Linked DNA regions of Homo sapiens. The protein of the gene in region 2 purifies or fractionates together with the protein of the main gene of each other region. This does not show direct contact. Each region holds a gene or a part of one and is shown on either strand. Other genes may lie near its edges.

Region 1 (5,165 bases), on a different chromosome or scaffold from region 2:
AAGGAACAATCCAGTTTGCAAAATAATTTTTAATAATATGTGCCAGGATTCCAGTCTGTGTCCTGTATTAGGCACATTGAGTCTTAAAAGGGAAGCAAATAATATATTCCCTGTTCCTGGGAAGTTTACAGATAAGATGGGTGAAATGAGCAAAACCCACAGGAAAGAAACAGGAAGAGGTATAATCACAGAAACATGGATGTAGAGAATCTGAATCTAAGGACATATTCTTTGCTTGCCAATATTCTTTGGGTTTTACATGTTTCATATACTGAAGACTTTTGGCATATAGCACACATGTTAGTCCTAGTGAGAGGAAGTTATAAGGGAGTTCCACTATATAAGGAAATAAAACAGTAGCTGTGCAAAATTATAAACACATTTGTAAAGGGAGTGAAATTGGAGTTAAATTGGAGCTTCATGACTGACAGCTTAGCTACTCACTATTCTGCCTAGGTGCTTGTTCTCTCTCATTTATCTCCCAGCTAACATTCATTAAGCATTTATAGTGTGCCAGAAATCGTGTGAAGTGCTGGGCATAGAGAAAACAATAATTGCCTTGTGCACCTAATTCTGGTTTTACTTGGGGAAAGGAATGTGCACACATGTATGCATATTGTCAGGGTGAAGGAGCCTGACTTTTATAATCTTAAGATTATATTGAAGGAAGAGACATTGAGGACTTGAAGTTAAATTCATTCAGCCTTATGTATTCAAGGGGCCATGACGAGTATAGGGATGGGGCCATGACGCGTATAGAGATGTATATTTTTTTTTTAGCAATCAAATTTGTAATTTGATAGAGGAGAAAGAACATATTTGGAGTAATAAAAAGAATACGATAAGTACTGTATAAATATTGATTACAGACTAGGTACTCTGGCTTCTTAAGCAGCTAAGTGTTCAGTTTTAACAGCAACTCATAAGCTATTGTAATGTTTCAGAAATTATAACATGTCATAAGTCCACATTAACCTCCTGGGCTGCCTTTGCATCTGAATATGAGACACAAAAATATTCTGGCAGTCTGTGTCCCTATTTTCTTGATTTGGGAAGTATATGCATAATGCATATAAGCAAAAGAGTAATTAAAAACAAGGTGCTATTTATCTAATGGCTACATTATGCAAGGCCCTTTCTATATACTGTTTCATCCTTGTAATGACAACCTTGTCAATTTGACATTATCTCCATTTTACTAATAAGGTAACTGAGTTCCAGAATGGGAACTGTTTGTCTGTAGCTTGTGGCCAGTGAGAAGTGGGACTGGGCTCCAGTACAGACCCAGGTGTGGACTCTGCAGCCTGTGTTCTTTTTACTTCATGCCAATTCCTTATGTCACCATGGGTCTTCAGCATGTTAATATCTTGATGTAGAAATGCAGTCTCATTTCTACTGTTTTAGGAAAAGTTACTGGAGGAAGTTAGAATTTTAGTAACTGCCTAAATGTTTGAAGACAATTTGATAATATAGTTAGGGATGGAAGGGAATGGGGGCTGGATAATTAATGGCCCCAGTGCTGATTCTCCTATGAAGACGTGCTGTATTTGACCCCAGTTATTTTTTAGTTGACTCACAGGAGATCTTACATGAATATTCAGATTTCCCACTTTTTATTTATTTTTATTTTTTTCAAATAGAGACAGGGTCTGGCTCTCTTGCCCAGACTAGAGTATAGTGGTGTGATCCTAGCTCACTATAACCTCGACCTCCTGGGCTCAAGCAATTCTCCCTTCTCAGGCTTCTGAGTAGCTGGGATGACAGGTGCATGCCACCATGCCTGGCTAATTTATTTTTGTTTCTATGTAGACAGGGTCTCACTGTTTGCCTAGGCTGTTCTTGAACTCCTGGGCTCAAGGGATCCTCCAACTTTGGCCTCCCAGAGTACTGGGATTACAGGTGTGAGTCACTGCACCCAGCCCCACTTCTTTATGTATAGGTGCCAAGTTTTCTAGAGGAGGAACTGTACTTTTTCAAGTACAGTTCAAGTTTACATTTTTCAAGTTTACATTTTAGTAAAGTCAACTCTTTTAAAAAATCCCTTAAAACTTCACCCCAAACAATGTTTACCTGAGATTTCCCAGCTAATCTCCCTTCTCTGCACATTACTTATTTCCTCCACTTAGGTGTTTATTTTTAAACCTATTTACAAAATTAATACATTCTATTTATGGTTCAGTGTAGTTATTCTGACTTGCAAGGTTTTCATTCCTTGCAGTTTGACTAAGTCACTCTTTGGTCCTATTTTATACATTCCTGGAAATATAGACTGTAACTATCTTTGTAAATGATAGTTAATTTCAGTTAATTTTACAAGAAATATTTCTATAAATTTATAATTCTGCAAATGGAATAACTGTTAAATCAAATTCTATGTTATCTATTGCTGTGTAACAAATTATCCCAAAATTTAGCTGCTTAAGACAACAAACTTTTTTTTTTGAGATGGAGTTTTGCTCTTGTTGCCCAGGCTGGAGTGCAGTGGCACGATCTCGGCTCACAGCAACCTCCGCCCCCTGGGTTCAAGCCATTCTCCTGCCTCAGCCTCTGGAGTAGCTGGGATTACAGGCATGCGCCACCACGCCAGGCTAATTTTGTATTTTTAGTAGAGACGGGGTTTCTCCATGTAGGTCAGGCTGGTCTCAAACTCCAGACCTCAGATGATCTGCCCGCCTTAGCCTCCCAAAGTGCTGGGATTACAGGCGTGAGCCACCGTGCCCAGCCAACAACAAACATTTTTTAATCTTATGATTTCTGTGGGTCAGGAATTCAGAACCAGCGTAGCTGGGTAGTTCTGGCTGAGTCACTGATGAGTTGCAATCAAGCTTTTGACCATTGCTATAGCAGTCATCTGAAGGCTTGACTGGGGCTGGGGCTGGGGCTGGAGGATCTGCTTCCGAGATGGTACACTCACATGGCTGTTGACAGGAGGCCTCAGTTCCTTGCTGGCTGTTGGTAGGGGACCTCAGAAATTTCATAGGGTTGCATGAGTATCCTTATAACATGTCAGCTAGCTTCATCCAGAGCAAGTGATGCAAGAGAGAGCAAGGAGGAAACCATGTGCCTTTTATGTCCTGTTTTGAATATAACACTGTTACTCCTTCTATATTTGATTTGTTATAACGTGGCACTAAGTCTAGCCCATACTCAGGGAGGAAGGCAGTTAGGTTCCACCTTTTTTGAGGGGAGAGTCAAATAATTTGTGGGCATATTTCCAAACAACCATCAATCCTTTTTCCCGTGAAGCCATTTCTTCAGTTGATGTTGATTGTCTCTGTTTTAGCACATGCAATAATTTTTCTGACTTGTATATTCATGGTATTTTCTGGAAATGCTCTGAAGAAAAGGTAGTGGTTTTTAAATTTTAAGGAAAGTTTTCACAAATTACAGATTTGTTGTGGATTCCTTGAAGTTTTATATCCATCACATTAGCTTTAGTACTAATGCAGCCAGAATGTTTTCATTTTTATCCTATTCTATTCTATACATTTATTCTTATACAATTGTATTCATATTTAATGGTTTTAAATTAATCTAAAATAGAACCAAACATTTCTAGGTAAGGTAATTCACTTTCCAAACTTTTAGAAGAAAAATGCTTCCTCAACCACTGTCTGAAGGCACGTGTTTCAATTTCCATATGGTACAGTGACATTGGGCTGCATGGCTTAGATGAGTCTGCTAATTTATAATCCAGTCCTTTGGGTACTTTACTAACTTTTATCCTCAAGTAAGGTCCTAAGTAGATCCATTTTATTTCAAGTCTCATTCTTTAGAAGGTGTATGTAGGACATAATTGGCTTAGGCAACCTTTTCAGAACATATTGCAGTTAGGTTTATATTTTGGCACTTCATGTCAGATATTAACTTTCACTATCCTGACCCCTAACAAGTATAAATTACCTGCTTAACTCTTTTATTCTAGTTTTTAATTTTAATCTAATTTTAGACATACAGGAAAATTGCTGGAATAGTACAAAGAATTCTTTTATAACCTTCACCACATCTCCCAAATGTTAACATTTTACCACATTTGTTTTATCCTTCTCTCTCTCCTTTTGCCCCACTGAACTGTTGAAGAGAAAGTTGCAGATATAATACCCAATCCTTCAATGTGCATTTCCTAAAAACAAGGATATTCTCTTATTAACTGTTTTACAATCATTAAATACTATCGTTGTAGCTAACCTATAGGCTTTATTCATATTTCATCAATTATCCCAATTGACTTATCAATGAATACCCTTTAGAGCAACAAAAACAATAAAAATCCAACACACAAGAACAAAGTGAAACAAAACAAAAAACCAGCCATGTGGTGCATTCAGTTTTTCTTTTTTTCTTTTGGTCTCCTTTTTTTTTTTTTTTTTGAGACGGAATTTCACTCTTGTTGCCCAGGAGTGCGGTGGCACCATCTCGGCTCACTGCAACCTCTGTCTTCCGGGAGCAATTCTCCTGCCTCAGCCTCCCAAGTAGCTGGGATTACAGGCATGCACCACCATGCCTGGCTAATTTTGTATTTTTAGTAGAGACGGGGTTTTCACCATGTTGGCCAGGCTGGTCTCAAACTCTTGACCTCAGGTGATCCGCCCACCTTGGCCTCCCAAAGTGTTGGTATTACAGGCATGAGCCACCACGCCTGGCCTGGTCTCCTTTAATCTAGAATAGTGCCTCAATCTTGTCTTTATAACACTGACATTATATAAGGGTTTAGGCCAGTTTTGTTTTTATTTATTTATTTCTTTTTTGAGATGGAGTTTCATTCTTATTGCCCAGGCTGGAGTGCAATGGTGTGATTTCAGCTCACTGTAACCTCCACCTCCTGGGTTCAAGCGATTCTCCTGCCTCAGCCTCCCTAGTAGCTGGGATTACAGGCACATGCCATCACACCCAGCTAATTTTTGTATTTTTAGTAGAGACAGGGTTTCACCACATTGGCCAGGCTGGTCTAGAACTCTTGACCTCGTGATCCTCCTGCCTCGGCCTCCCAAAGTGCTGGGATTACAGGCATGAGCCACCGTGCCCGGCCTATTTACTTTTTTAATAGTATGTCTCTCACTTGAGGTTTATCTGGTTATGATTAGATCCACATTATGCAGTTTTGGCGGTAATATAGATGTGATGTATTTTTCTCAGTGCTTCATTTGAAGATGCTAATGTTGATT
Region 2 (5,165 bases):
AGCTGACTGTAAAATGTTAGGGTTTGGCTAGGGTCCCTTCCAGCTCTGGGCTTCCTTCATCTGCCAGCGCCCTTTCTCCCTCCTGACCGTGTGAAACAGGGCAAGAATGGCTCATGGTTCTGGATTTCACTGGGGAGAAGCCCACACAGCCTTCCTGCTGGGACCGCCCAGGCCATACCCAAAGAAATGACTCCAAAGACAGTAAGTGGGCCAGGAAGACAAAAGGCTGTTCTCTTGCCATGAATATGTGTATCCAACCATCGTTCAGAAGTAAGAAGTATTATATTATTTGTATCAGGCCTTTCTCTTGAGGCCACCCAGATTTTAAATATTTTCCCATCTGCATGAGAAAAATGCTTGAAAGTGTCATGTAAACTGACAATTTAAATAGAATAGATAGAAAGATAGAGGATGGGGGTGGGCAGATGATTCCTTGGGTAGAATGGAACTTTCTCCAAGTTCTGGAGGCTCTAATGGACAAGATGCCAACCTCGGGAGTTTTCCTAGCCGGACCTCTTGAATCTGTCCCAGGCCAGGTTTGTCAAGCTACTGTTTGCCTCTAATAAGTGTCCTGCCTTAGTTCTTTTCTTTTTCCCTGGAAAATGTATTAAGCATTAGACAAAAGTGTGAGATCAATGGAATTTCTATTAGTTGAAGGACTTAGCAATAAGAATGTCTACATGAGCATTTCTCAATTTACAAAAGTATTTCCACATCATTCATTCATTCATTCAACAAACATTTATTGAGGGTTTACTTTGTGCCAGGCCAGTGCTATCTAGAATACAAATAGGGTCTCTGCCTTCATGTTCCTGGGGCAATTTTTACTTGTCTAGGAAGCAGTGTGGTGTGGTGGTTAAGCACACAGGCTGTAGATCAGACTACTTGGGTTTGCACCTCAGCTCCCCGTATTTGTGTGCCTTGGGAAAGTTATTTAACCCCTCTATGCCATACTTTTTTTTTCTTTTTCTTTTTTTGAGACAGTCTTGCTCTGTCGCCCAGGCTGGAGTGTAGTGGCGTAATCTTGGCTCACTGCACCCTCTGCCTCCCGGGTTCAAGTGATTCTTGTGCGTCAGCCTCTCCAGTAGCTGGGATTAAAGGCGTGCACCCCACGCCCAGCTAATTTTTCTATTTTTCGTAGAGACAGGGTTTTGTTACGTTACTTAGGCTGGTCTCGAACTCCTGGGCTCAAGTGATCCTCCCACCTTGGCCTCCCAAAGTGCTGGGATGATAGGCGTGAGCCACTGCACCTGGCCTCTATGCCATAGTTTCTACATCTGTAAAATCGGGATGATAATATTAGTACCTCCTGAGCAGAGTTGTTTGAGAAAGGTATCTAAAGTAGGGGCAGCTTAGATAGTCTAAGCCACTGTCATTTTTCATCGTGTCTCCTAATTTGTCTCCTTGCTTATAACCTCCACCTCACTCTTACTGTAGTACTGAAGTGGAGGTACTAAATAGATCCAAAATGACTGCTTGGGGAGACTGACTCTAAGCCACTGTCTACCCAGCAGTCATTTTGGATCTATTTAAAATATAAGCCAGATCATGTCACCACTATCCCCCACCTCAGCTGAATTGACTTCCCATCTTTTATAATAAAACCTAAGCCCTTACCCTGGCCCCAAGCCCCCACATGATCTACCTTCCTGCCACACAGACCCTGCTGGTCCTCAGATGTGCCAAGCGCATTCCTGCCTCAAGGCCTTGGCACTTGCGTTCTGTCTGCCTAGAACCCTCTTGCCCCAGATCTTTCCACGGCTGGCTCCTCGATGCTCCTGAGGCCCAAGAGAAGCCTTCCTGACCACATGTTCTTAGATCTCACCCTCTTTTATTCTTCCCATAGCACTCGTTAGACTTGGCATTCTCTTTTTGGTTTTCTGCCACTGCCACTAGACTCTAAGCTTCATGAGAGCAGAGGCCTTGTCTGTGTTATCACTGTGTTCTGGCATTTGGAGCAGCATCCATACATGATGGGTGCTCAGTACATATCTATAAGGATGAATAAATTATAGTCTAGTGTAAAAGACATGTCAAATGTCAAGAATTCAGTTTCAAAGAATAATAATAATAGCCATCACTTATGTTCAGTTTACTATGTAGCAGACGCTGCTCTCGGCACTTTACATATGCCAACTCATTTAACTTTAGTACTCTCACATAATTATATAATCTCTATAATTATCTCTGTTTTACAGAGGAAGAAACTGAGGCATGGCAAACTTTACTAACTTTTCCACAGTTAATAAGTGGTAGAGCAACTTCAACTATAGCCCTGTATTTAATGCATGGCATCACAGGAGTGACAACATGGGACCCAATCTAGACTGGGTTCAGGGAGTGCTTCTTATTGGGCCTCACAGAAATTCATTGAGGTAGATATTATTATTCCCACTTTATAGGCAAAGAAACTGAGGCTCAGGGAGTTTAAGAGATTCATCCAGGACTGTACCACTAAGAAGTGACAGAGCAAGGACTTGAGACCAGAGGCCTGTCCTCTCCACCATGCAGAACAGCCCACAGGTGGGGTCAGGCCAGTAGTTCCAGGGGCCCATGTTTAGTAAACAGGACGCCTGTTTATTTTTCCTCCATTTTGGGTCCCTTGCACACTCTTTCTCTATCTCGCTCCACAGGCCATCCCATCCATGCCGACCCTTTCCAAACTGTCCCTCTACCTGGGACCCCTCTCTGTGGGCCCCATGATCAGGGCCTGGGGTGAAACAAAGCTGCTAGTGCCCTGTGTGTGGAGGAAATTCAAGGGCATGGCCACCCTGCCTGGCTCTACAGGTTTGATAAGGGAGGGCTCCTGGCCCTGGTCAGAGGGGTCCAAGGAGTCCTTTCTGCCAACTTGGAAGGTCCTTCGGGGCTTGGTAGGCTTGGAATGGGGTGTCAGCAGCCACTTGGATGCCAGATAAACAGAGGGGCACTCCTAGGCATGGAGCACCAGCTGCGTTCCTTCCTTGTCTTAGGCCACGAGAAATGAGGTCTCTGAACAAAGAGCACTGCCCAGCCCATCTGGGGGCCTGGATCCTGATGATTGTGGGAGAGAGGGAGGGATTCATTTCCCAGATTGCCCAGCCTTTCCTGTCAGCCCAAAGACACGTTGGACTCTAAAATTTTGTATAGTTTAATCCCTCCTCAGCACAAAAACAAAGGTAGTAATCATGATATTATTAAAGAAAAAGGCTTTATTTATGGCAGGACTGTGATTTAATTTTACATGTGTTTGTAGAGGGGTGTGTGTGTGTGTGTGTGTGTATCCCCATTTGTGGTCTGAACACATCTTTATTATTAACTATGTGATCAAATAACAGCCTTCTTATTTGGATAAAGAAAATAGAACTTATTTAAATGAGATTGAGTCCCGCTTATGTGCTGGTATAGTGGAGAGAAAGTACTTTCTTGTTGATTTAAACTCTACCCTGTTTCCTCCTCTGTCAGATAGGGACAGTCATGCCTGTATTACATGATTAGTGTGGGGATGAAATGAAGAGCTGTGCATGTGATGTGCTCAGTAGACATAAGGCCATTCCACATTGGCTGTGCCTGTTCATATAGAGAGGTTATTTCTGGGAAAATGAGAGGTCCTTTGTATATTCTTTGAGTGGTAGTCATGAGGAGAGTAGTTACGTCAATACAAGCTCAAGTGGATGGGCATAATCGCTTATTGGGCCCCTGCTAAATGAGAGTCAGTCTACAGGTTGTCCCCTGAAATCTTTAGATTCCCCCTGTAAATATAATTATTTTCTGTGACTTACAAATGAATACACGAGGCTCCGGTTAAACATTGCGCACAGAGTGTAGTTGAAAGGGTGCACACTCCTCCGTTGACATTCTGGCTCTGCCCTTGTTCCCTGTGTGACCACAGGCAAGTTACTTAACCTCCCTGAGCCTCAATTTCCTCACTGGTAAAATGGGTCAGTGGCTGACACACAGATCGGGCTAGTCCTAGGTATGGCCAGCTGTGCTCTTCCCACCATGTGCAGTGGCTCACACCTGTAATCCCAGCACTTTGGGAGGCCGAGGCGGGCGGATCACCTGAGGTCAGGAGTTCGACACCAGCCTGGCCAGCCTGGTGAAACCCCGTCTCTACTAAAACCACAAAAATTAGCTGGGCGTGGTGGTGGGCGCCTGTAATCCCAGCTACTTGGGAGGCTAAGTCAGGAGAATCAATTGATCCCGGGAGGCAGAGGTTGCAGCGAGCCAAGATCGCACCACTGCATTCCAGCCTGGGCGACAGAGCAAGACTCCGTCTCAAAAAAAAAAAAAAAAAAAGAGAAAAAAAGAAATATGTTGGGAGGCGTGTGGTGGACTGTGGCTTTTATCTTTTTCTGCCATCTGTTTCCAGGACAAGAATCAGGGTTTTGTTTTGGTATTTTATTTTGGAAACAGGGTCTCACTCTTGCTCACGCTGGAGTACAATGGTGTGATCAGAGCTCACCGTAACCTCAAATTCCTGGGCTGAAGCAGCCTGCTGCTTCATCCTGGCAAGTAGCCAGGACTACAGGTGCGCACCACCACACCCAGCTATTTTTCTTATTTTTTGTGGAGACTGGAGTCTTGCTCTGTTGACCAGGTGGTCTTGAACTCCTGGTCTCAAGCAGCTCTTCCGCCTTGGCCTCCCACAATGTTGGAATTACAGGTGTGAGCCACCAGGCCTGGCCAGGGATCCATTTTGGATTAAGACACACCAATTCAAAATGGACTCCCTCGGTACCGAGTGGCAGAAAACCCCCACTTCAGTACTCCAGTAAGAGTGAGTCCCAGAGCAAGGGCCCCAGAGGGAGGAGACACAGGAGTGTGTTCTTACCTCCCCTGCCACCCCCACCCTGCTTAAGCACCAGGAAGTCCAGCTGCATACCCACCAGGATTTAGAATAGTAGGGGTGCACACATTGTGCTCCCCCAAAAATGTCTGTAGGGTTGGACTACTTTAATGACTGGAGACCACTTTTTGATAAACTGGATATTCCGATCTACATTGTACAAAACAGGAAGGTGCTCATTTTCCTATTTGCAGGTGACATAGTTATATTCTCTTAAGCTGGGCAAGCTTTTATGATAAACTCTGGCCTGACTTCACAGGAAGAAGGGTCGCAGATGGCCTATACTCAAATCAAAGTGCTTATCGGATTTTCTGTAGGAAAGAGTAGACCACTCAGGCCA

Evidence for each region.
Region 1: the proteins of MTURN (region 2) and BTBD9 purify together in Homo sapiens (affinity purification with mass spectrometry; one large-scale study listed by BioGRID and IntAct). This does not show direct contact.

The regions. Positions count from the first base shown.
Region 1 is NC_000006.12:38,629,406-38,634,570, reverse strand, and holds part of BTBD9 (BTB/POZ domain-containing protein 9), read left to right. Parts: intron 1-5,165.
Region 2 is NC_000007.14:30,137,159-30,142,323, forward strand, and holds part of MTURN (maturin), read left to right. Parts: intron 1-5,165. UniProt on the Homo sapiens protein: Promotes megakaryocyte differentiation by enhancing ERK and JNK signaling as well as up-regulating RUNX1 and FLI1 expression. Represses NF-kappa-B transcriptional activity by inhibiting phosphorylation of RELA at 'Ser-536'.